Regions from separate parts of the Homo sapiens genome. Here regions 1 and 2 are each linked to region 3. A link means that fine-mapping ties the variant in region 3 to the expression of a gene that starts in the linked region. Tissue or cell type: whole blood. Region 3 holds a variant in brackets; each other region holds the start of a gene. All regions are shown on one strand. Distances are from middle to middle.

Region 1 (8,105 bases), 310 kb after region 3:
AACAGATTAAGCACGGGAAAGCCTGTTTTTAAAAATAGTGTCATAATAGGGAAGTTCTTCCCTGAAAGCATGTGCACAGCCACTCTTGCTAATATGGTAACAAGATTCCACCCTTTCCTTCCTGAGACTAGGTCATGCAGAGAATTTAGTGAGTAGATATTTTCTGAGGATTCTTTTTGGCTCTTTCATGGGCCAGTCACGGTCCTGACATGGGTGACCACCCAGAGATGAATGTGAGGAGATGACACAGGATTCTCTGGCCAGATGGAATAGTGCTGGATGTATGCATGCATACCTGCCATTTCCACATGTATAGTGCTTTTTTTCTGATTATGCAAATAATGTATGCTTACTGTAAAAAAATTATGAAAAATGTAGAAAAGATAAAAACTATTCCTCACCCCATCTTCCAGAGACAAACTATACTTCACACATCTCTTTCCTGCTTTTATATATATACATATATCTCACCACAATGCACTATCATTTCCTGCATGTATATATATATATATATATGTGTGTGTGTGTGTGTGTGTGTGTGTGTGTGTGTGTGTGTAGGAAAGAGATGTATTAAGATGTATTACAAATGTATAACATTGTATATGTCTTTTGTCATCTGCTTTTTTTGTATTCAATTTTATATCATGAGATCTTTGACCATCTCACTGAAAAATCTTGAAGGACATTATTGGTGAAGGCTGATAGAAATGGACCATGATTTCCCCAGCCGTCTCATGTTGCTGACCATTTCAGTTGTTTCCAGTTTTAAATGCAACAGGAGAGAGCGTCATGTCAGTAGCTAAGCTTCTGCAACACACCTAAAGGAAGCATGTTGCTGAGTGCCCTGCTCTGATCCCCTTGGAGAAACGCTGAGGACGGATTTGATTTCAAATACTGTAAATCAGGCCAGGTGTGGTGGCTCAGGCCTGTAATCCCAGCACTTTGGGAGGCTGAGGTGGGTGGATCACCTGAGGTCAGAGTGTGAGACCAGCCTGGCCAACATGGCGAAACCCCGTCTCTACTAAAAATATAAAAATTACCCAGGCATGATGGTGTGCCTCTGTAGTCCCAGCTACTTGAGAGGCTGAGGCATGAGAATCGCTTAAACCCTGTGAGGTGGAGGTTGCAATGAGCCGAGATCATGCCACTGCACTCCAGCCTGAGCGACAGAGCAAGACACTGACTCCAAAAAAAAAAAAAAAAAAAAGCCACAGTATGGGTTTCTATGCACATATGGCAGCGAGCCCATTCATTGACTGTCAGGTAGCATCTACATAAAATGGAATACTATTCAGCCTTTAAAAGGAATGCCATTTGGATATATTCTACACCGTGAATGAACCTTGAAAACATGCTAAGTGAAATAAGCCAAATACAAAAGGAAAAACATTATATGATTCCCTTTACCTGAGTATCTGAGATACCTAGAGTAGTCAAATTCAAAGAGAAAAAGTAGAGCAGAGGTCGCCAGGGGCTGCAGGGGTTGGGGGAAAGGGGAATATTGCTTAATGGGTACGGAGTTTGTGTTTGGAATGATGAAATGTTCTGGAAATCAGTGGGGTAATGGTTGCACAACATCGTGAATGTGCTTACTGCCACTGAATTGTATACTTGAAAATGGCTAAAATGGTAACTCTTATGTACATCTTTCCGCAATTTTAGAAAGCCACAATGAGGCAGAATTACAACACAGGAGGGTAAATACTAAGGTTCTGCCTAAAGGCTTGGTCCTCCTCGTGGCCTTGGATGACCTCATCCCCCTCGAGGGGGACGCCCGGGGACTTTCCCACCCTTCTGAACCCAGCCTTCTCATTCTCTGATTTTCATCCAGGCTCCCCTATTCCAGCACAGCCTCCATTTCCTCAGGTGTCTCGTAAGTTCACCCCCAACCTCTGAAGAGCTCCACCCCTCCTCACAGGGCAAGCTCACTCCTCGGTTCTTCTTCCCTTCCAGGGCTTCCATTCTTATCCCGAGTTTCCAGCTTCAGCCAGGTGCCCAGGGATGCTTGCTATGGCCGGATCCAAAGGCCAAGGCAAGAGGAAACAACGCAGCTCTCTGGGGATAAGGGTGGGCGGCATCTCCCAGTCGGGTTTCCTTTTCAGCATCTGCCGGGAGGGCTGCAGGCCGGCTGGGTATTTTCATAGCTGATCTACTCAAACAAACACATCTCCTAAAGACAAATGTTGGTTATGTTCTCTGAAGACACTACAGTTTAAATCCACATTGGGGAACTCCCCCACTAGCCAGGCACCTGTTCTGCCCTTGAAGTCGGCGGGTCCCCATCCCTGGGCAGAGGAGCTTTTGGTTTCTGACGTTGTCCTCCTGAGGCTGCTGGAATCACAGAAAGACCTCATTCCCCTTTAATGTCAGCTTTCCCATCCCCTGCGTGTGGTCTCAAGACCTTGGAGCTCTTTCTTATAACAGGTGGGTGGGGGCGGGGGGCAGGGGAGGGGTGACAGTTTCTTCTGTCATATAAACATAAAAACTTCAGCAACAGTGTCTGATTGTGTCAAAGCTGAGACCCAGATATGCTGGAATGTGGAGACAGAGACAGTCCTGGTGTGCTGGTGTGGGGGAGCTTAAGGGACATCAGACCAGCTGCTGAACCACACCCTTCATTTGCCAAAAGCTCCATGGGGAGAAACGGGGATCCTGTCGAAAGCTTGCACATATTCTGACACATGCAGATATGTCTTATGGGCTTAGCAGGCCTGGACAGAGGCAGGGATTGAGCACGAGGTTGGCGAATGTCTGACTCCCCACAGGCGAAGAAGGAAGAAGGCTGAAGGAGCCACGCTCACAGCAGGACAGGAAGGCTGTGGGTGTCTGGAAAGCTGTGGGTGATGTGCCTTGATTGCCCCCGTGGTGGAGCCCAGCACTCCAGGAGGGAGAATACTTGTAAAGAATTAAATTAGAATGATTTGCCTGGGAGGTGGAGTCAGCAGCATAAGGAGACTGCTAAAAGGGCGAGAGCAGAGCGTAGTGAGAAGTTTCTATACAGGCTGGAGATCCCTGGAAGCTAGTGGTGGTGGAGTGAGAGAGGAGAGAACAGACACGTCAAAGGCCAGGGGCCGTCGCTGGTGGCTGGACTAGGTGAGCAGCTCAGTGTTAGGGGGGCAGGTGGCCTCCGTGGGAGAAGCTGAGGGCAGCAGGATGACCAGGGCCACAGGAAGCAGCTGGGTTATTTGCAGACAGCTCCCACCTGGGCTGCATCCATCACCCACGCACTATCTTATCCTCAGAGACGCAGGCCAAAAACGATGGCTTCTTTTCAGTGGCTACATTTTGAATCAGGTGATGCTTGATAAAAATGAAACATCCTGCTCTTCTTCACCCGACCTGCCTTTTCACCTACCCAAACAAACAAAAGCAAAAATAAAACAAGACAATAATAGCAATGAGGCAGAGGAAAGACCGAGTCCCATCCTACAAGAAGGGAGGCCTCCGTCTCCCCACAGCCACTCCTATCACCCCAGATCATCACTGCCTGAATGCTGCCTTTACCATCTCAGCCCAAGACACTGTGTTCTTGACATTTTAATCATTGGCATCATTATGTCATTTCTTTGGCAATCGAAAGCAATGTTCCTGCTCCTGTGTGGGTTTGAACAAACAGCCCAAGGGGAGAAATAATGAATTCTCAAAGGAAAAAAAGTCTGTTTCTCATCTCAAGCACCTGGAAGGCTAAGGCGGGAGGATTGCTTGAGGTCAGGAGTCCGAGGCTGCAGTGAGCTATGTTCACACCACTGCACTCCAGCCTGGGTGACACAGTGAGACCCTGTCTCAAAAAAAAAAATCCTGTAAGCAATGAGACACACAAGGAGTAATCAGCACACAGAGCCTTAGCACACACTCCAGCCTGCACACTCTGCAACGTTCTGCTCTTACCTCAGTGTCACAAGGTGTGGCTTGAGCAGCTCTTGCCCAGACAGATAAAAAGCAGGTGTAACATAGTGACCCCAAGGGACCCAAGGGTGCCCATGGTTTGCAAGAGAGGAAAGAACAGAGAGAGCCTGAACATTCCCAGAATTGCATTGCTCACTAGCCAAGCTGTGGCTTCCTTGACACATGTAGCTGGCATGGGCTCCGCCCACAAGCAGGCCTGGCTGAGCAGAAGGCAGCTTCCAGGAACTCCAGGGTACAGTTATTGTGTTGATCCAACAGGTGCCCAGGCCAACACCAACGTGGGGCCTGAAGCTGCCTGCCCACTCCTCTCTGGCCTCTCAACCCTGACCAACAGCCACCCTCACAGCAGCATGGGCCAAAGGGTCATGGGACAAGCCACAAATGCAGTTGACACAGCCTGGGTACATCATGCACAGCAGGGTCCACTCTGTTCCACCATCAAAGACCCCTGCCTCCTAATTGGGCTTAAGAATGGGCAGGACGCACCTGTGCTTTAGTAGTGCAGCTCCCATAATGGCTGGATTGCCACATGCTGGTATCTCAGTACAGCTGCCCAGGTGTCCTAAACATGTTTTAGTCATCTTTCTAGAGAAGGTAGAGACTATGGTTATAGTAACAGGAAAAGTATGAAACAGGGGAAAGTACCAGGATGTCCCCTCATGGACTGTCACTACTGGCCGTCACTACAGAACTTTTATTCATTGTTTCATTGTTTTTAAAACGTGCGTATGTGCAAGGCCTCAGATCTTTCTGCTATGAGTCCCTCATCGTTGACTTGGGACCACAGACTTCGGCTAGAAAGCTCACTGTCATGCTGGATGAGGGCATGGCTCAGGCACCGTGGCTTATCGTTTGGGCTGAGGACAGATGTAGCTTTCACTGAACTCTCTTCCAGTGCACCAGTGCAGTTTTGGGTAGCGGGGACGTAGAAGTGTGCCCAGAAGGGCTGAAGACGTTTTGCTTTTTTTGTTTTTGTTTTTGTTTTGAGACGGATCTTGCTCTGTTGCCCAGGCTAGAGTGTAGTGGTGCAATCTCGGCTCACTACAAACTCCTCCTACTGGGGTCAAGTGATTCACCTACTTCAGCCTCCCAAAGTGCTGGAATTACAGGCATGAGCCACTGTGCCTGGCCCAAAGATGTTTTTTAAAGAGAAATAGAGGGAAGAGCAGCTGCCATAGGGAATGGAAATGTGGGAGAAGAGAGGCTATTTAAGAGGATTTTTTTATTTTTTGAGATGGGGTTTCACTCTGTCGCCCAGGCTGGAGTGCAGTGGTGCAATCTCGGCTCACTGCAACCTCTGCCTCCCAGGTTCAAGCCATTTTCCTGCCTCAGCCTCCTGAGTGGCTGGGATTACAGGCACGTGCCACCATGCCTGGCTAATTTTTGTATTTTTAGTAGAGATGGGGTTTCACCATGTTGGTCAGGCTGGTCTCGAACTCCTGACCTCAGGTGATCTGCCCTCCTCGGCCTTCCAAAGTGCTGGGATTACAGGCACGAGCCACTGCCCACCGCCCGAGGATTTTTTTTTTTTTTTTTTTTTTGAGACAGAGTCTGGCTCTGTCACCCAGGCTGGAGTGCAGTGGTGCAATCTCAGCTTTCTGCAACCTCCACCTCCTGGGGTCAAGCGATTCTCCTGCCTCAGCCTCCCAAGTAGCTGGGATTACAGGCAACTGCCATCATGCCCAACTAATTTTTGTATTTTTAGTAGAGACGGGGGTTTCACCATGTTGGTCAGGCTGGTCTTGAACTCCTAACCTCCAGTGATCCATGGCCTCGGCCTCCCAAAGTGCTGGGATTCCAGGTGTGAACCCCTCTGCCCGGCCAGCTTAAGAGGATTTTGAAGGGGCTTTAGTGATTCCATGTTCCATGTGACCAAGAAATCACCATCAAAAATCGATATATGTTTTGTCGTAACAAGGAGATACACAAAGGGATAGCGACTACCTCTGCCTCAGGAGTCAGCAAATACTTCACTCAAGAACTGATCTTGAAGGATGGGTGAGAATTTTCTAGAATGAAAAAGATGGATAGGTTCGTGTGTCTCAAAAGCAAGCCCAGGACAGATGCCAGTGGTTACGTTTTCACTGGTCTGAAAGGACATGAGAAAAATAAAGACCAGGTAGGAAGCTTTTCAAAAAGCTAAATTTATCCAATTGAAAGGAACTTAGGTTTCGGATGATGTACTTTCTACTTTTGGAGGGTTGCTGTTTTTCTTTCTCTTATGAAATCAAGCTGAATATAGATGATACCATCTATGTTATCATTTACATTCTCTCTTACTTAGCCTAATAAAAACATCACGTTTCCCACATTTTTTAAAAAAGGTACTGACCTTTGAAATGCAGAGGTCTGAGGGCTACCGTAGCACACTCTAAACTAAGGTGCTGGATGGTGCAGGCTGCCCCGCTGGGCAGGCCATGGTGCATGTGGAGAACTGGGAGGAAGCCAGGGTATGAGGAAGATGGGACAGAGCAGTGGTTTAGGGTTAGATGGAGGACGGTCTTTCATAGGGACCTTGGACTTCATTCTTTAGGAATGATTTGGGGTTTATAAATGAAGGAGAGAGCAGATTATATTTTACTGGAACCCAGGAAGATTAACTTTGGTTCCAGTAAAGTAGTGGACTGGAGAAGAAAGAGATGAGACAAAAAGACCAAAACCACTGATGCAATTTTCCAGGGGTAAGACGAGGGCATTCATTATGATCAGTGGTGATACAGACAAGGAAACCAAGCAAGATTCGAGAAACTCCTAGGACAGCATTGGCCTCAAAGACATTCGTGTGATGAATGCTTTAGAGCCCTGTCAACTCATAGACACAACCAACATGTATATTGTGTTATACAACCAGGATATCTGAGGAGATCTCAGAGCTGAGTCTTAAAGACCGATTAGTCCTTCGGGCCTACAAATCCTAGTTCCTGAGCCAACTCAAACAGTAAAGAGCACTGGGGTACCACCCGTTCTTAGTGCCACCTAAGAACATAGGCTTTTGGGTTCACTGGCCAGTACATGAATCTGACACTTTTAAAAATAGGAGATGACAGATTTAAAAGACTCTGGGGCAGGGGGAGGTCAGGCAATTTAAAAGAACAGAATGGATTTGCAAGTATAGATGAGAAACTACAATGAACACTTGGCATCAGTGAGAGGGCTGCAATAGGGAATGATGGTGACTGCGGAAAACTCAAGCTCATGTGCCCTACCTAAAGGGGGTAGCTGCCATTCTACACCAGCTAACTCTTGCCATATAGGAGTGGAACCAGATTTTTGAAATTTTGAACGAAGCTGGAAATCTGAATTTTTGTTTTCTGCTAGTTCAAGTTTTGAAACATAACAGCCACACCATGTGAGTTGAAACCAATTTTGTTGGCAAGCTGAATTTGTTCCACTGACCTCCAACCTTAGATCTTTGGCCCAGGAATTAGATAACTATTAGGCTAATGCACAAGACCTCATACCAGAAAGAGAAACATGAAGATAGGTAGTGATAGAGGTGAGGTATGAATCATCTGTTAGAAGAAAGAAAAGAGTATGAGACATTTTTTAACTTACAATGAATAAATCGCTATTCATAATTCTCCACTTCTGTTACCAGAGGATGTAATAATGGGTTTTGGAAAATAGGCAACACTTGTAACCATCAAGTGATGCCGTTGCCATTGTCACATTTGTCTTTCATAGTTGTTTCATACGAAGGAAGAACAGGTATTGTTATCCTCATTTGGCTGTTGAGAAAACGGAGGCATGGCAAGGCCTGCAGTTCCCTAAAATCACTGAGTGGTAGTGGCAGGGCTGAGTCTAGAACTTTGTCAACTATCACCACCTCTGGCATCGGCCTACACAGCCACTTGTGAACAGGTCCTCTTAGAACAGGACATTTCAGCAGCTGCTGGTCTCTGAAAGTGCCAGAGAGCCTCAGCGCAAGGAGGCAAGGTGGGAGAGAAGTTGCAGAAAGCACCGCAGATGCTCCTGGCAATGCTCACCGTCCCACGCTTGCTCACGGCCCCAGCAGAGGCAGGACCGTGGATACCAATCCAGGAGTGTGAAGAACAGCATCTCTTGTCTGCACAATCCCTCAGCGGCTCCGCTGGGGACTTTGCTGCACTCAGTTTTTCTCACCTGCAACTTGTCAGACAGCATTCTCTTTTTGTCTTCATCGCTATTTTCATCAGAATTTGGAAGGAGCTATAGCTTAT
Region 2 (8,105 bases), 230 kb after region 3:
GAACTTCTAGCTCTGGAGGGGCAGTAGAGCCCAGCAATTAGGAGCACAGACCCTGAAGCCAGACTGCCTAGGTTCAAATTCTGGTATGGGGAACTTAATCTTTGCACCTGTTCCTTTATCTTGTGTACAGTAAGGATAGCAGCAGGACCTACCTTACAGGGTTGCTGAAGGTACTAATGAGTTAACCCATCAGAAGCTTAGCAGCACCTGGCTCTGTCTGCTGCTCTCATCACTGCTCTGTTCCTAAGCCTGGCCGTGTCCAGGCTGTGGCTACCACCTCGGTCAGCTACCACAGCCCTGCTTTGTGGCAGACACCTGGACCCTGAAGGAGAAACTAGCTCCGGAAGCACTTTCTCATGACTCTGCTTAATAAAGGAATAAATAGTATTCAGAGTGTTTCAGTCCTTCTTATATGGACATTTCTCCCACAACAAACCTAAGGGGAAAGTGCCCATTTCTATAGCAGCCAAAGCTGTGCTAATGGATAGAGCCTACATTTATCAGAAGTCCCCTCCAGAATGAGGAAATGGTCTACAGGCAGGCCCCGTTTCCTCCTCTGATGCCCTAACTTCTTTCCATTTCTCTTTCCAAACCATGAAATCCCTATTTCAACTGCTTTTGACTAGAATACATGAACCCAAAAGTCCATTAAACCTATTCATTAGTAAAAACACTTTTCAAATTATTGTTAATTTCAAGAGTTTTAAAGCAGAACATTTTTTATTTTTTAAAGACGTATTTAAACATATAACAAAGGTTGGTAAACTGTTCTGAAAAATATCCAACAAATGGGGAGAAGTAACTAAATTATGGCCCATACAGCAAATAATGCAGTCATCTTCAGAACTTATTTTTTGAAGAATATGTAACAACGTGTAAAAAAGCCCACAATATAACTTAGGTGATAAAGTTAAATTGTCAAAATTGTAATCTTTAATTAACAATGTATGCTTAAAATTTGTTTATTGTATAGGGAAAAAAGACTGGAAGGAAATATAACAAAATGTTAATAGTATTTAATCTCTGGAAGAGCTTCATTTTTCCTATTTCCCAAATTTTCTCCAGTAAGTATGTATGACTCTTAAAATATGAAAAACAAATACAGCTTTTCTGTGGCAAGTGGTTTTTAGATATTAGACAGCTTTCAGAATTTTATTTAAACTTGAAGACCAGCAAATAATTCATAAAGAGAATCAGCCCAGGCACCTATATGGAACCACCAGTTTTGAGATTTTATTTTATTGTTTTTACTTTTTTTTTTCTAGAGATGGGGTCTTGCTCTGTTGCCCAGGCTGGTCTTGAACTCCTGGCCTCAAGCAACAAGCTATTTGCCTCCAGATGATCACATCCTTCTAAGGCAGGCAGCACAGGGGAGCAGGGCCCTTACTCACCTCCACTTAAGTTTTTGTCCAAGGGTGACACCCTCCAAGCCAGCCACACTTCAAGGAGTCTCCAATATTTCACCCGCCCCTCTTGATTCCTCAAAGGTCATAAGTGAATCAATACTGTGTTGTTTCTAACACAGTCAAGAACATGAAAGTGGGCTGGGTGCAGTGGCTCACGCCTGTAATCCTAGCACTTTGGGGAGGCCAAGGAGGGCAAATCGCTTGAGCCCAGGAGTTCGAGACAACTGGGCAATATGGCAAAACCGCTTCACTACGAAAAAAATACAAAAATTAGCTGGGCATAGTGATGTGCGCCTGTAGTCTAAGCTACTGGAGAGGCTGAAGTGGGAGGATCAACTGAGCCCAGGGAGGTGGAGAGGCTGCAACGAGCCATGATCATGCCTGTACTCCAACCTGGGCGACAGAGTGAGACCTTATCTGGGAAAAAAGAAAAAAAAAAGAAAGTGAAAATGTCATGATGTAGAAAATGAACATAACTCAGATTATGTGATAGTTTTCTCTTCTTGCCATTATATACAACCCAAGGCTTGCCACAAACTGAAATTTCTTATGCATTGACATTCAGCATTTGATGTAAAATGACAATCTTAGAGTCGCTGCCACAAACCCTGGTAAAACTGCCCCTGCCTTCTCCAGTTCACTAAGTTCAGCTACTCCTTCAGGGCTTGTGCTCCTTTAAAACTTTTCAGAAGCCCCTTGAAGTACCAACATGTTGAAACTCAAACTCAACTGCCTGCAGCTTCAGATCAGCTCTGGCCACTGAGAATTCTTCTCCAGGCCCCAGTGTCAAAGGCACTTTTGACCATCATGTGTTTGTCTGACTACCAAGTTGGACTGCCAACCTTCACTAAAAACTCCGGCACCTTTATCTACCTCCTGTCAGATCACCGCCTGTCAGAGAGGGAGGCCTAAAAAGGCTTCAGGATATCAACAGCTTTGAGCTGCCTTAGAGGAACTTCTTTTCTATTTTGTAGTACAGGAGCCTCATGCACTGCATCATCCAAACAAGACTCTCCACAAAACATTACTAATGGATTCTAATTGAACAGAGTTTGGTTACAAGAGACAGTAAACACAAATGGGCACCTGTTTTAAATGGCAAACTTACACAATAAATTCAATTGATCTTAAAAACTAAACATTCCTCTAAGGTTACTGACTATAAATATCTAGAAATTACTACTCCTATAGTCTTGCTATTTCCAGACAAGTGAAACTGGAAGGGAGAGAGGAGAAATACCCAGTTATAATGACAAGACAACCTTATCTTTTCTCAAAAGCCTCCCCAAACACACAACCATTTTCCACAAAACAGTTACATCAAAAAAGATGTAGCAAGACCTAGACATTAAGCATGCTAGAAAGTAGGGACAGTTTTACCAGTGTTTGTGGCAGCAACTCTGAGATAGTCATTTTACATCAAATGCTAAATGTCAATGCATAAGAAATTTCAGTTTGTGGTAAGCCCTGGGTTATATATAATGGCAACAAGAGAAAACTATCACATAATCTGAATTACGTTCATTTTTCTGCATACACCATGCATGCTGGTACACTTTCAGTTAGCCTAAACTTCACCCAAAAGTAGAGGTGGCTATGAAAACTCTACCTGCATGGTATAAATAGATACCTAACCCTACATGCATGGGTCACTTGTATCTACCTCCTAAATACCAAAAACTTAGAAGCCCAGATTTCTTTTCAGTCAGGCTGCCTGCGATAACAATAAAAATACTGCCAAAATAGGAACAACAGAGACAGGAAGGAAATATGCCAAAATGCTTATAATTGTGGGGAAGGGTAATTTTTTGTTTTGTTTTGTTTTTTACAGAGTCCTGCTCTGTTGCCCAGTCTGGAGTGCAGTGGCGGGATCTCAGCTCATCACAACTTCTGCCTCCTGAGTTCAAGCGATTCTCCTGGCTCAGCCTCTCGAGTAGCTGGGACTAGAGATGCATGCCACCACGCCTGGCTAATTATTTGTATTTTTAGTAGAGATAGGGTTTCTCCATGTTGGTCAGGCTGGTCTCGAACTCCTGACCTCAAATGATCTGCCCGCCTCGGTCTCCCAAAGTGCTGGGATTACAGTGAGCCACCACGCCTGTCTGGGTAATTTTTTTTTAAGTATTCTGTTTACAGTAAATTCAGAAAACAGAAGTCTTTAATATGTCTGTTTTAAAGGGGAGAGGTATAAGGTGTGCGGCTAACAAGTTTATTTTTCTAGTCGCAGAATTTGGACTCGTGAAAGATTTTAGTCTAATGCAGTTTGTTCACAAATATAAGGAGGGGGGCCTCAGACTAGGGAGGTGTTTTCCGAGTTGAGTCAGAACAAGAAAGTAAGTCTCCCAAGACCTGGTCCTTTTCCACTATATCACACTGCACTGTCTGGCTCCAATCTGATGGCGAGCAATGGTTCCTTAAAAAGCTCCATCTTCTCAAGCCTACCCAGCACAGACCTACAACTCAAACTTTAAGTTTTAGCCAGCCTAACCTTCCACGTCCACTTGAAAAAAGAAAAAAAAGAAAGAAACAATCAACCGGAAGCCTTTGATTTTTTTGCTAGCAAGAAGCCAATAATTGTTTTCTTTGGGACAATCACAGGTTAAGTTGTGAAATGGGTGGCAGAAACTGCAAGATTTAACCAGTTTCTCTCAACGCTAATCAAAGGTCAAGAAAATAAAAGACAGGGCAGTGAGAGTCGCGGGACTTTAGACACTCCTGCACCAAGAAGCTTAAAAGTCTTAGCCAGGGCACTAGAGAACGCTTTTAGAATGGTCACTCTTAATTATGCTCCATAACCTTGAAATTGGACTGAGTGGGGAAGGGGTTTCCACACTCTCACAACGCACCGACTGGGGGAACGCCTGTCCCCAGACTCGAATCCACGTGTCCATTCAAGTCATCTACCGCCACTCTCCGTCTACGCTGCCAGGTGACAGACATCATCTTTGCTTCTCAATTTCAAAAAATGCCAGCACTCCTTAGATCAATGACTCCACGGCCAAGTGCAAGGGCCACGGGCACTCCTCTGGAGTCACCGAGAGAATGTCTGCCTCTGGCAGCGGCCTCTGAGCTGCCTGTGGGCCTCGTGCCGCCGCGCTGCGTGGGGCCGGCATCTCAGCGGGCGCGAGTGCAGTCTCGCCCCACGCGCGGTCCGAACGCCCGCGAGCCCGGCCTCTGGGCAGGCGGGGGCCGCGGACGAGGGCAACGTCAGCGGCCCAGCTGGGCCACCTCCTCCCAGCCGAAGCGCGGCCTCCGGCTGCTTCGCCGGGCCGGTCCCCGCCGCCGCACACACAAGGGTCGGTCCCGCGCGCATCCCCGGCCGCGCACCAGCCCCGCGCCCGCGCCGCCCGCGACTCAGACACAGGAAGCTGCGGCAGCACGGGCACCCCGGAGGCCTCCGGCTGCCGAGGGAAGCGGGGCCGCGGGCAGGAGGCCGGAAAGGCGGCGCGGCCCCACGAGCCTGGGGTGGCTCACGCGCCTCCGCGGCGGCCGCTGCTCCGGGCTCGGCCCTGAAGGGCAACGTCAGCCGGCGCCTCGGCCGGGGCCCGGGCACCGCCGCGGGAGCAGGCGCGGCTCCGCACGGCGGGCGCACTCACCTCCTCCGTGGACCGGCCGCTCCGCCGCCGGCTGTCACTGCAGCCCACTCCCTGCCCCGCGCCGGCTCTGGATGCTATTTAAGGCGCCGCTGGCGCCGCCGCCTCGGCCCGCTGGTTGCGCCCCCGCCACCGCCGCGGCTGAGCCAGGATGCTGCTGGTGCGCTCGCCGCGCCGGCCCCGCCCTCCCGCGGCCCCGCCCCGCCCGCAGGCCCCGCCCCCGGCAGGCCCCGCCCCGCCGAGCGCCCGGCCGCCCTCCTGTCTGGGCGCGCGTGGCTGGCGGGTGGCCGGCGGTCGAGAGGCTGCGGCGGGCGAACGCCGCTGGAGTCGCCCAGACTGCCTCGGATTTCATAATGAATCTGAGGAAGGACAAAGGGTACATTGGACCGCCTCAGCTCAGAGGCCCCGCGGACCCTGGGCCCCGCGATGCCCGAGGGGCGGGCGGCGCCCTCCGGATCCTGCACCCTCAGCCCGTGCCCCGCTGGCCTCCTGGCAGGCCGGGCAGAATTCTGCTGCGAGGGCCCTGGAGGCAAGGGCCTTCCTCTCCGTTTTTCCTTGACACTGACGGGCGCGGCCCCACAGGGTTTCCCCCACGCTCCCTGGCCGGAAGACCTTTTCTGTCTGGTGTCTGCAGAGCCTGACGTGGGCAGCGCCCGCAGCTCGCGCCGGTGCAGGGGAGCTGAGGGCCGACTGCGCGCTGCACCACGGCGGCCACCTGCTGTGCGGTTCTGAGGGCTTCCGCGGTTCTGAGGGCTTCCGCGTCCCTGCCATGCCCATCTTGGGGCTTCAGAAGCCAACACGATGGTTTTCGGGCTCACATCCCAAAGGCTGCTCTTCCTTTTAGCACCTGGGACCTACCAGGAACCTCAACCTCTAACAACATTGGTCCCCGTTACCGTGGAGTTTGCGCCCAGCGTTCGCTGGAGGGCCGTTTGAAGAATGATTGTTGTCGTAAAGGCCTTTGATAATAATAGATACTGTTTACCCAGTGCTTGATGCCAGGCATTGCTACAAACACTGCGTACACATTATTCTATTTAATCTTCATAACCCAGTGAGGTAGGTACTGTCATTACTGTCCTTTCACAGAAGAGGAAGCTGGGGCACAGAGGTTAAATGCTAGTGAGAGCAGTACCACACTTGGCACTCAGGCTGCCCCCAGAGTGTGGGCACAACCAACGCAGGGCTATGCCTGGGCTGCAGGCAGGGGAAACTGACCGTGGTTCGCTCCAGGCCTCAGCCACACTGCAGTTCACTCCCACAAATAACTGAAGGACTTTCCCTGGGTGTCTCCCACAGTGTGCTGGGCGCAGTGGTGCAGTGGGGTGAGGACAACGCACACACCAGCAACCTCTCTAGCAGCTCAGTCCTTTTAGATCTCCATCTTCCAGATCTAGAAAAAATGGACTCCACGTTCGTTTTCACTGGTTCCCGCTTGGCTAATCCCTGGTTTTTCTGTCCAGATCTCGCCTCCCCATCCGTGATTTTGTCATCTTTGCCTCTCCTTTTTCCTCTTCTCCAACCGGTCCCTCAGCCCCAGAACCTCTGCAGGCACCTCCCAAGTTCTGTGGTCTATTGTTTTCAAGGGCTGCTGGAACGAAGTACCACACACTAAGTGGCTTCAACAACCGAAATGTATGGTCTGTCCTGGTTCTGGAGACTAGAAGTACAAAATCACGGCGTGGGAGGGCTGGCTGCTTCCGAGGCCCATGAAAGAGCATGTGTGCCCGGCCACTCTGACTTGCAGATGCCCATCTTCTCCCTATGTCTCCTCACACCATCTTCCCTGTGGTGTGTGTGTGCAAATCCCTTCTTTCTATAAGGACACCAGTCATACTGGACTAGGGCCCACCCGAATTGCCTCATTTTAACTTGATGACCTCTGTAATCATGAGGTAATGTCCAAGTAAGGTCCCATTCTAAGATACCTGAATGCCCAGGCACGGTGGTTCATGCCTGTAATCCCAGCACTTTGGGAGGCCGAGGCAGGCAGATCAACTGAGGTCAGGAGTTCAAGACCAGCCTGGCCAACATGGTGAAACCCTGTCTCTACTAAAAATAAAAAAATTAGCGGGGCATGGTGGTGCGTACCTGTAGTCCCAGCTACTCGGGAGGCTGAGGCAGAAGAATTGTTTGAACCCAGGGAGGTGGAGGTTGCAATGAGCCAAGATCACGCCACTGCATTCCAGCCTGGGAGACAGAGCAAGACTCTGTCTCAAAACAACAACAACAACAACAACAAACCCCTGAACATATGAACTTGGGGAATGTGGGGGTGACAATTCAACCCGTAACATGTGGATGGTCGTCACTGGCTGTCTCACCTTACGTCTTCTCCTCAAGACACTTTTCTTTTAAACTGGGTGCCTCTCCCTGGGCTCTAGCCCTTAATGAGGTGATTTCCAACTCAAGGCTGGGAAAGGCACACAACCCAGTATCAGACCTGAGTTCACACTCCTTCTGGCAGGAACTTCTAGGTGACATTGGGAAGCAACTTCATTCCTTAGAACCTAGATTTCTCCTCAGGCTATAAGGGGGCTTGGCTAAATAATCTCTTAGGTCTCTTTCAGCACACACACTTAAAAAAAAACAAAAAAGTTTTTATCTAATCACTCCAAAAAGTTTTACAATGTATGGGGTTGTCTTGTGGACTTGAGATAGAGACTTTGATGGGAGGCAGTATTGCATAGTGGTTAAGAACACAGGCTTTGGGGTGGGTGAATCCACATCAAGCCTCATTGCATCCTCCTTAAATCAGGAATAATACCTACCTCAGACAGGTGTCATAGGATTGACAGCCACGCCCTTGGCGTTCTCATTAAATGAAGATTCCAGACTCTATAGTTGGGAGTTTGTGACTTAGGTAAGAAACCAGTCTCTTTTTTTGAGACGGAGTCTCACTCTGTTGCCCAGGCTGGGGTGCAGTGGTGCGATCTCGGCTCACTGCAATCTCTACCTCCTGGGTTCATGCCATTTTCCTGCCTCAGCCTCCCAAGTAGCTGGGACCACAGGCACCCACCACCACACCCGGCTAGTTTTTTGTATTTTTAGTAGAGATGGGGTTTCATTGTGTTAGCCAGGATGGTCTCGATCTCCTGACTTCGTG
Region 3 (8,105 bases):
CAGGCTGGGGTCCAGTGGTGCGATCTTGGCTCACTGCAACCTCCATCTCCTGGGTTCAAGCAATTCTCCTGCCTCAGCCTCCTGAGTAGCTGGGATTACAGGTGCGCACCACCACGCCCAGCTAATTTTTTGTATCTTTAGCAGAGATGGGGTTTCACCATGTTGGTCAGGCTGGTCTCCAACTCCTGACCTCGTGATCCGCCCACCTCAGCCTCCCACAGTGCTGGAATTGCAAGTGTGAGCCACTGCGCCTGGCCGAGAGTGCTAACCTTTAAAGCTGTAAATTTCATATTCATGAGAGCTATGGGCAGGGTTCATCTGAAGACATATCGTGGCAAGTTTATTTCTCAAAATGCCATTTGGATATTTTCCTGGATGATGTGGATAGTGGAAGCATTGTTGATGCTATAGGGCTTTAAAAACCCTGTTCACGGCCAGGCACGGTGGCTCACGTCTGTAATCCCAGCACTTTGGGAGGCTGAGGCTGGTGGATCACCTGAGGTCAGGAGTTCGTGACCAGCCTGGCCAGTGTGGTGAAAGCCCATCTCTACTAAAAATACAAAAACTAGCCGGGCATGGAGGCACACACTTGTAATCACAGCTACTCGGCAGGCTGAGGCAGGAGAATCACTTGAGGCAGGAGAATCACTTGAGACCGGGAGGCAGAGGTTGCAGTGAGCCAAGATCACGCCACTGCACTCCAGCCTGGGTGACAAGAGTGAAACTCAGACTCAAAAATAAATAAATAAATAAATAAATAAATAAATAAATAAATAACCCTGTTCACACTGTCCTACAAGGAGCACTCCCCCACACCATTTTTTTTTTTTTTTTTTTTTCTTCCTGACACAGGGTCTCTGGAGTCTCCAGCGATCCTCCAGGCCTACACCACCACGCCCAGCCTATTCACTTTTTTTTTTTTTTTTCTACCTTCTTTTCTTTTTCCTGGCCTATTCACTTTTAATGACAAGGTATTTCCAACCCAGAATAGTCTTTGACAGCATTAACTGACAGATATTTGTGTATGAGTTGCTTCTATTCATCCTGAAAAGATACAATTACTAAAGCATACATTTGTAAGAATAACATTTTTATTTGAGTAGGTTAAATCTGAATAACTAGAAATTTCCTTTAAGGAGAAGGATGAGCTGCCTTCTTTGTCTTTAAATTTTTCTCGCTCTGTGGATCTGAAAAATAGGGCAGCTGGCCCAGTCCTGTTGGGCCACACCAGAAAAACGATGGAGCTTCTTAATCACACGTAATTATTCTCAGAATCCCATCTTCGTTCATGTGTGCCAGGCCACAACTTAAATTAGTGAGAAGGGCAAGTAAACCCTTTGGCATTGCCAAATGACCATCTAAGTAGTGCCAAACAGAATTTGGATACTAAGTTAGCCTGACAGTTTACTAAGTATTTCCCATCCCCCCCCCGAACTTGGGGTTGTCAGAGAAGACTGGTTATTTTTTTCTTTAAATCTAGGGTCCAATCTGAGAATGTGGAATAGCAAAGACTTGGATTGGAGAGCTAGCAATATAGTCGTTACAGAAGGAGTCTTATAAGGACAATTTGGATATATTAGCTCCCCCAGAAGAAGGCACCGTTACTATTTTATTATTGTCATTAGCCATGAATTACCTCAAAGCATAGCCAGTGTAATTGAAAAATGTTAATTTTTCTTAGAAAAAACAGTACCCACTTCAGGGAGAACAAGCTCTGTTGCTTGGGGGTGTCTTTGCTGACAGGGCAGAAGTGGAGCCAAGGGTTTTTTTGTTTTTGTTTTTTGTTTTTTTTGTGGTGTTTGGCTGGAGTAGCGTGGTTATTGTCTAAAAGTTTTCCATCTTGCCAGGCTGCCTGTTTCCTGGTCCTTAGCTAGACATAGCAGGCTTTCTTTGGCTTTTTTCTTTTTTTAATCCATGCCCATTGGTGTTTCTGGGTTGCCAGCTTCTCCAGTGTCCAACCCAAGATACGTGAGACAAAAAGAAAACTCAGTGGCTCACTCACTGCCGTGTCATGCCCTGGGTTCCCAGGTCCCTACATAGCCTTCCTTGCTGCATCCACTTTCAGAGTCTTCTGATATTTGTCTTATAAACAATGTCTAGGCTTTCTAGCTACACTCAGCAGGAAGAATAGAAAAGCACATGCTCCATTTTGGTCCTTGTAGTATTTTTGTATCAATTAAATAGGAATTTCACTGGAGGTGAGAAACACGGCATCAGTTTCAGTTGTCTCTAGAGACACACAGAGTGATCTACGTCAGGGTTTTCTCCAGTGGAAACTCCGTATCTGGTTCATTTTTAAAAATCAACGTTATTGGGGTTTGATATTCATACAATAATGGATACTTTACATATAATAAAATGCACTCATTTAAGATTAGTTTCATGAGTCTTAACAAATGTATACACCTGTGTAGCTATTACCACCACCAAGATATAGGACACTTTCCTGACCCCTCCAATCTCCCTGTGCCTCGTTATAGCTGAGACACTCCTAATCCCTGCCCCAGGCAAGCATTCATCTGATTTCTCTTGCTTTGGCTTGGTTTTTGCCTTCATATAAATGAACTTCTAAATAAATGAAATAATAGAGTATGTACTCTTGGGTCTCTTTCATTCAGCAGCATAGTTCGGATATCCATCCACATTCTGTGTATTAGTAGTTCGTCCTTTTTGATTGGTGAATGCTATTCCATTGTATGACTATACCTCAATTCGTTTGTCCATTTTCCCCTGAGTGGACATTTGTGTTGTTTTCTTTTTGTGCTATTATGAATATGGTGCTTTAAACATTCATGTTCAAGTCTCGTAGATATATACTTTTATTTCTCTTGAATAGCTAGGAGTAGAATGGCTGGCTCATTCAGTAAGTGCATGTTTAACTTAACCACCAAACTGAATTCCCAAGTGGCTGCCCAATTTTGCATTCCCAACAACAGCGCATGAGAATTCTGATGCCTTCATATCCTTGGGGTCTGGCTCTGGTCCCAGCACCACTGAGAATCCCTCTGAAGCCAGCATGGTTCCAGTGCTCAGCTCAGCCAAAGGCACCACTTACTAAAATGAGTGCACAGTAACACCGTTTCACTCTTTCTATTCCCACGCACTGGAGACCTGGGCTAGGACGGGTTATGGGATCTACCCTGCACACGCCAAGAGCCGCTCTTCCCATCTGACTTTTAAAATCTCAGTTTCGAATCCCACAATTCTTTCTCAAGTCTAACCCTACTCAGTCATCACGGGGGCGTCTTCCCTAAGAGAAAACTCATGCTATCAAGTTTCACTAAAAAGCTTAGCCTAAAAGAGATGTAGACATCATTTGGAGGGGTGAGGGCAGTGAAGACAAGCAGAGCTATCTGATGTCAGCCATCTGCACAGAGAATAACAAGCAAGATAATTTTGTAGCCGTTTTAATTCAAATAGACCTTGAGAGGCTTTGTAAGCTACTTACCTTCAAAATGTGGCACGCCTCATGGACATTATTAATACAAATACAAAATTTATTTTTCTATTACAAATGAGAAAAAAGGGAGCTAGGTGCAGTGGCTCATACCTGTAATCCTAGCATTTTGGAAGGCTGAGGCAGAAGGATC[G/A]CTTGAGCATGGGAGATCAAGACCAGCCGGGGCAACATAGTGAGACCCCATCTCTACAAGTAATCTTTTTAAAAAATAGCTAGGCGGCTGGGTGCAGTGGCTCATGCCTGTGGTCCCAGCACTCTGGGAGGCCAAGGTGGGCAGATCACCTGAAGTCAGGAGTTCAAGACCAGCCTGGCCAACATGGTGAAACCCCGTCTCTACTAAAAATACAAAAATTAGCTGGGCGTGGTGGTGCGTGCCTGTAACCCCAGCTACTCAGGAAGCTGAGGCAGGAGAATTGCTTGAACCCAGGAGGCAGAAGTTGCAGTGAACTGAGATCATGCCACTACCCTCTAGCCTGGGCAACAGAGCAAGATTCCGTTTCAAAAAAAAAAAATAGCCAAGGGTGGTGGCATGCACCTGTAGTTCCAGCTATTCAGGAGGCTGAGGCAGGAAGATCGCCTGAGTCTGGGAGGTTGAGGCTGCAGTAAGCTGTGATTGCATCACTGGACCCCAGCCTGGGTGACAGAGGGACACCCTGTCTCAAAAAAAAAAAATAAAGATTTTATACTAAAGAAATTCTCAATTAATTCAACTTCAAGTAATTTGAAAACAATTCTCACCAATGTCTCTTCACAGCTGTAGTCATTCAGGAATTTTAATGTTACATGGAAAATGTCCCAGCCATCCACACTGGCTAGTCTGTTTCCCATTTTCTAGCTGCTGCCCAGTTGCTAGGAATCCTAATGAGTTGATACTTCTCTCCTCTGACAGCCAGGCCCAACCAGCCCACGGAAATCTCAGTCAAGGCAGCACTACAAGAGACCCAGAGCAGGGGCTGCATGAGCTTGGTCCGTTCTGGGCCTCAGTTTCCCCATATTTAGATGGAGGGGATTTCCAAAATTAGATCTCAGGCCCTGTGCCCCGTGTTCCTCTGGCTGCACACGACCACTTAAGATGTTCTGTCGGGAAAACGGAAGGGCAGGGGTCTGGGAGGGTGAGATGCTTTCTCGGGGCATAATGTTTCCCAGAAAGACGATATTCTTACAGCGTGTGACATCTATTATTTCTGCCGGGATTTTGTAGAAAATGTAAATCTGGCAAGAAGAAAATTCACCTGGTGAATTTCCAAGTGAATCAGGAGCCGATTCCCAGGCATCTTCCCAGCGTTCCTCACGCGTTGTTAAGGCGTGGCCCCCAGTCTTCTTGGACCTGGGCATGGCTAAGCAGGTCTGGGAGGTGGAATTTGGAGGTAGCCCCCAAATCCCTGCACCCTGGTGGGCATTCCTGGTGTGCTTGCATCCCCCTGCAAGTGGGCAGGACGTGTCAGTATGATGGGATCTCACTCCCAGGATTGGGGCAGAGGCTGTATGGCAGAAATGAAGAGGTTTTGCAGATGTAACTAAGGTCTCTAATCAATTTACTTTGAGTTAATTTTTTAAAAAGGAAACGATCCTAAGTGAGCTTGACCTGATCAGGTGAGCTTTTTAAAAGAGTCCAGGCCTTCCTGGAAGGAAGCAGGTGTTTGACGTGAGCAAGATCCTCCTGCTGAGCTTTGAGAAGCAAATTGCCTCATTTTGAACTGCCTGTGTGGGGCCAGGTGGCAAGGGTGAGGGTGACCTGCAGATGCTACGATGGGTCCTGTCCAACAGCCAGAAAAGAACAGAGGGACTTCAGTCCCACGCTACAAGGAAATGAATCCTGCCAATAACCTTTATGAACTTGGAAACAGTTTATTTTGGAGTCAAACCTCCAGATGAGAACACAGTCCCAAGGCCAGGCACAGTGGCTCACCCCTGTAGGGCACAGGTACATTGGCTCACCCCTGTAGGGCCAGGCACAGTGGCTCACCCCTGTAGAATATTTAAGTCTGGCAAGAAGAAAATTCATCTGGTGAATTTCCAAGTGAATCAAGAGCTGATTTCACAGGCGTTTGGGAGGCAGAGGTGAGAGGATTGCTTGAGGCCAGGAGTTCAAGACCAGCCTGGACAACATAGTGAGACTCCTTCTCTACAACACACACACACACAGAGCCCAGCCAGTACCTTGATTTTAGGTGGTGATGAGAGGTGACAGCGTGCTGGCAGTCCTCACAGCCCTCTCTCGCTCTCGGCACCTCCTCTGCCTGGGATCCCACTTGGATGGCACTTGAGGAGCCCTTCAGCCCACCGCTGCACTGTGGGAGCCCGTTTCTGGGCTGGCCAAGGCTGGAGCCGGCTCCCTCAGCTTGCGGGGAGGTGTGGAGGGAGAGGCGCGGGCGGGAACCCGGGCTGTGCGCAGTGCTTGCGGGCCAGCTGGAGTTCCAGGTGGGCGTGAACTCGGCCGACCCCACACTCGGAGCGGCCGGCCGGCCCCACCGGCCCCGGGCAGTGAGGGGCTTAGCACCTGGGCCAGCAGCTGCCGTGCTCAATTTCTCGCCGGGCCTTAGCTGCCTTCCCGCCGGGCAGGGCTCGGGACCCGCAGCCCGCCATGCCTGAGCCTCCCCCCGACTCCGTGGGCTCCTGTGCTGCCCGAGCCTCCCCGACGAGAGCCGCCCCCTGCTCCACAGCGCCCAGTCCCATCGACCACCCAAGGGCTGAGGAGTGCGGGAGCAGGGCACCGGGACTGGCAGGCAGCTCCACCTGCGGCCCTGGTGCGGGATCCACTGGGTGAAGCCAGCTGGGCTCCTGAGTCTGGTGGGGACGTGGAGAACCTTTATGTCTAGCTCAGGGATTGTAAATACACCAATCAGCACCCTGTGTCTAGCTCAGGGTTTGTGAATGCACCAATCGACACTCTGTATCTAGCTGCTCTGGTGGGGCCTTGGAGAACCTTTGTGTCCACACTCTGTATCTAACTAATCTGATGAGGACGTGGAGAACCTTTGTGTCTAGCTCAGGGATTGTAAACGCACCAATCAGCGCCCTATCAAAACAGACCACTGGGCTCTACCAATCAGCAGGATGTGGGTGGGGCCAGGTAAGAGAATAAACGCAGGCTGCCCGAGCCAGCAGTGGCAACTCGCTGGGGTCTCCTTCCCCACTGTGGAAGCTTTGTTCTTTCGCTTTTTGCAATAAATCTTGCTACTGCGCACTCTTTGGCTCCACACTGCTTTTATGAGCTGTAACACTCACCGCGAAGGTCTGCAGCTTCACTCCTGAGCCAGTGAGACCACGAACACATCCGAACATCAGAAGGAATGAACAACTCCAGACGCGCCACCCTGAGAGCTGTAACACTCACCGCGAGGGTCTGCGGCTTCATTCTTGAAGTCAGTGAGACCAAGAACCCACCAATTCTGGACACAGTGAGACTCTGAACAGAGGATCCAGCTAAACCAGGCCTGGGCTTCAGGCCCCAAAAGCTGTCAGAGGCTAAATTTGTTTTAAGTGTGTGGGGTAAATCATCACCCATCACTAGCAAATGAAACACAGCAAGGATTTTTCAGTGCGGGCGTTCCCCCAGCTCTCTGCAGCACCTGTTTGCACCTTAATCTCACAGCACTAGCACATAGGAGGGCAGGGAATCCAACCCTCATGAGCTCTAAGGATCTGATGGAAACCGTGGAGGATCCCGCGAGAAGTAAATGAGCCTTAAAGCAGGACAGAACTGATTGCCTGTTAAGTGCTAAACTGTGTGCTTCATACACATATTTAATCTTCACAACTGTTCTGCAAGGATGGAAATGAGGTTAGTCATGATAATCATTTTAGAAGAAAACTGAGGTTAACTAAAAGGCCCAAGGTCATGTAGCGAATGAGTGGAGGAAGTCAGGATTCACAGCCTGACCTTGCTGACTCCAAAGCCCATGAATTTTCCAGGTTTCAATGCTGCTTCCTATTTCTCTCCACTTTGTTTCGGAGTCCCAGGCCACACCATACTCTACCCCGGCATCCCCGTACCCAACTCTGCTGTGTGTCTGTGTAGTTTCTCCTTGCCTAGAGCTATGTTTGTGGCCAAAACTATCCTTGCTAGAACTCTGGCTCCTGTTCCTTTGCTGATACCCACGCCCAGCACCATGTGGTGATCCCAGCTCAGCTCCCTCAGCTGCAGCAGCTGTTGCTTCCTTACTTTCTGAATCCTGAGGTGACAGATAAGTAAGTAAAGAATGGAATTGAATAGAAAATCAAGAAGAAAAGTACAAAAATACGATGTTTTAAATTTATTGCCAAGAAATTCGGAGATTTAATTAACAAATCAGCATATGCATCAAAGAATAGGGACCTGCCAATTTTCAACCTATAGTTGACTCTCCAACCTATAGTTGACCCTTGAACAACACAGAGATTAGGGGCACTGACTCCCACACAGTCAAAAATCCACATATAACTTTTTTTTTTTTTTAGACGGAGTTTTGCTCTTGTTGCCTAGGCTGGAGTGCAATGCCACGATCTCGGCTCACTGCAACCTCTGTCTCCCAGTTTCAAGTGATTCTCCTGCCTCAGCCTCCCAAGTAGCTGGGATTACAGGCATGCGCCACCACACCCGGGTAATTTGGTATTTTTAGTAGAGACAGGGTTTCTCCAGGTTGGTCAGGCTGGTCTCGAACTCCCA

Evidence for each region. PIP is the estimated chance that this variant, and not a neighbour inherited with it, causes the effect.
Region 1: it holds the start of LINC01093, and the variant in region 3 is fine-mapped to the expression of LINC01093 in whole blood (TOPMed, PIP above 0.99).
Region 2: ACSL1 starts here. The variant in region 3 is fine-mapped to the expression of ACSL1 in whole blood (TOPMed, PIP above 0.99).

Annotation. Positions count from the first base shown.
Region 1 is chr4:184,895,419-184,903,523 of GRCh38, forward strand. LINC01093 (long intergenic non-protein coding RNA 1093) reads right to left here and starts at 4,043. Exons shown (of 2, transcript NR_039977.1): 1 at 3,889-4,043. RefSeq lists an enhancer at 1,701-1,990.
Region 2 is chr4:184,820,914-184,829,018 of GRCh38, forward strand. ACSL1 (acyl-CoA synthetase long chain family member 1) reads right to left here and starts at 5,055. Exons shown (of 21, transcript NM_001995.5): 1 at 5,003-5,055. It overlaps LOC105377587 (a long non-coding RNA gene), which reads left to right and starts at 5,258. Exons shown (of 3, transcript XR_939564.4): 1 at 5,258-6,058. RefSeq lists enhancers at 4,304-4,373, 5,624-6,127, 5,734-5,783, 5,954-6,233 and a silencer at 4,544-5,503.
Region 3 is chr4:184,586,092-184,594,196 of GRCh38, forward strand. All of the region lies in intron 1 of LINC02365 (long intergenic non-protein coding RNA 2365), which reads right to left. Among named protein-coding and RNA genes, the nearest start is that of LINC02365, 35 kb to the right of the region's middle. RefSeq lists a silencer at 3,164-3,458. The variant G/A (reference allele first, on the strand shown) is at 3,591.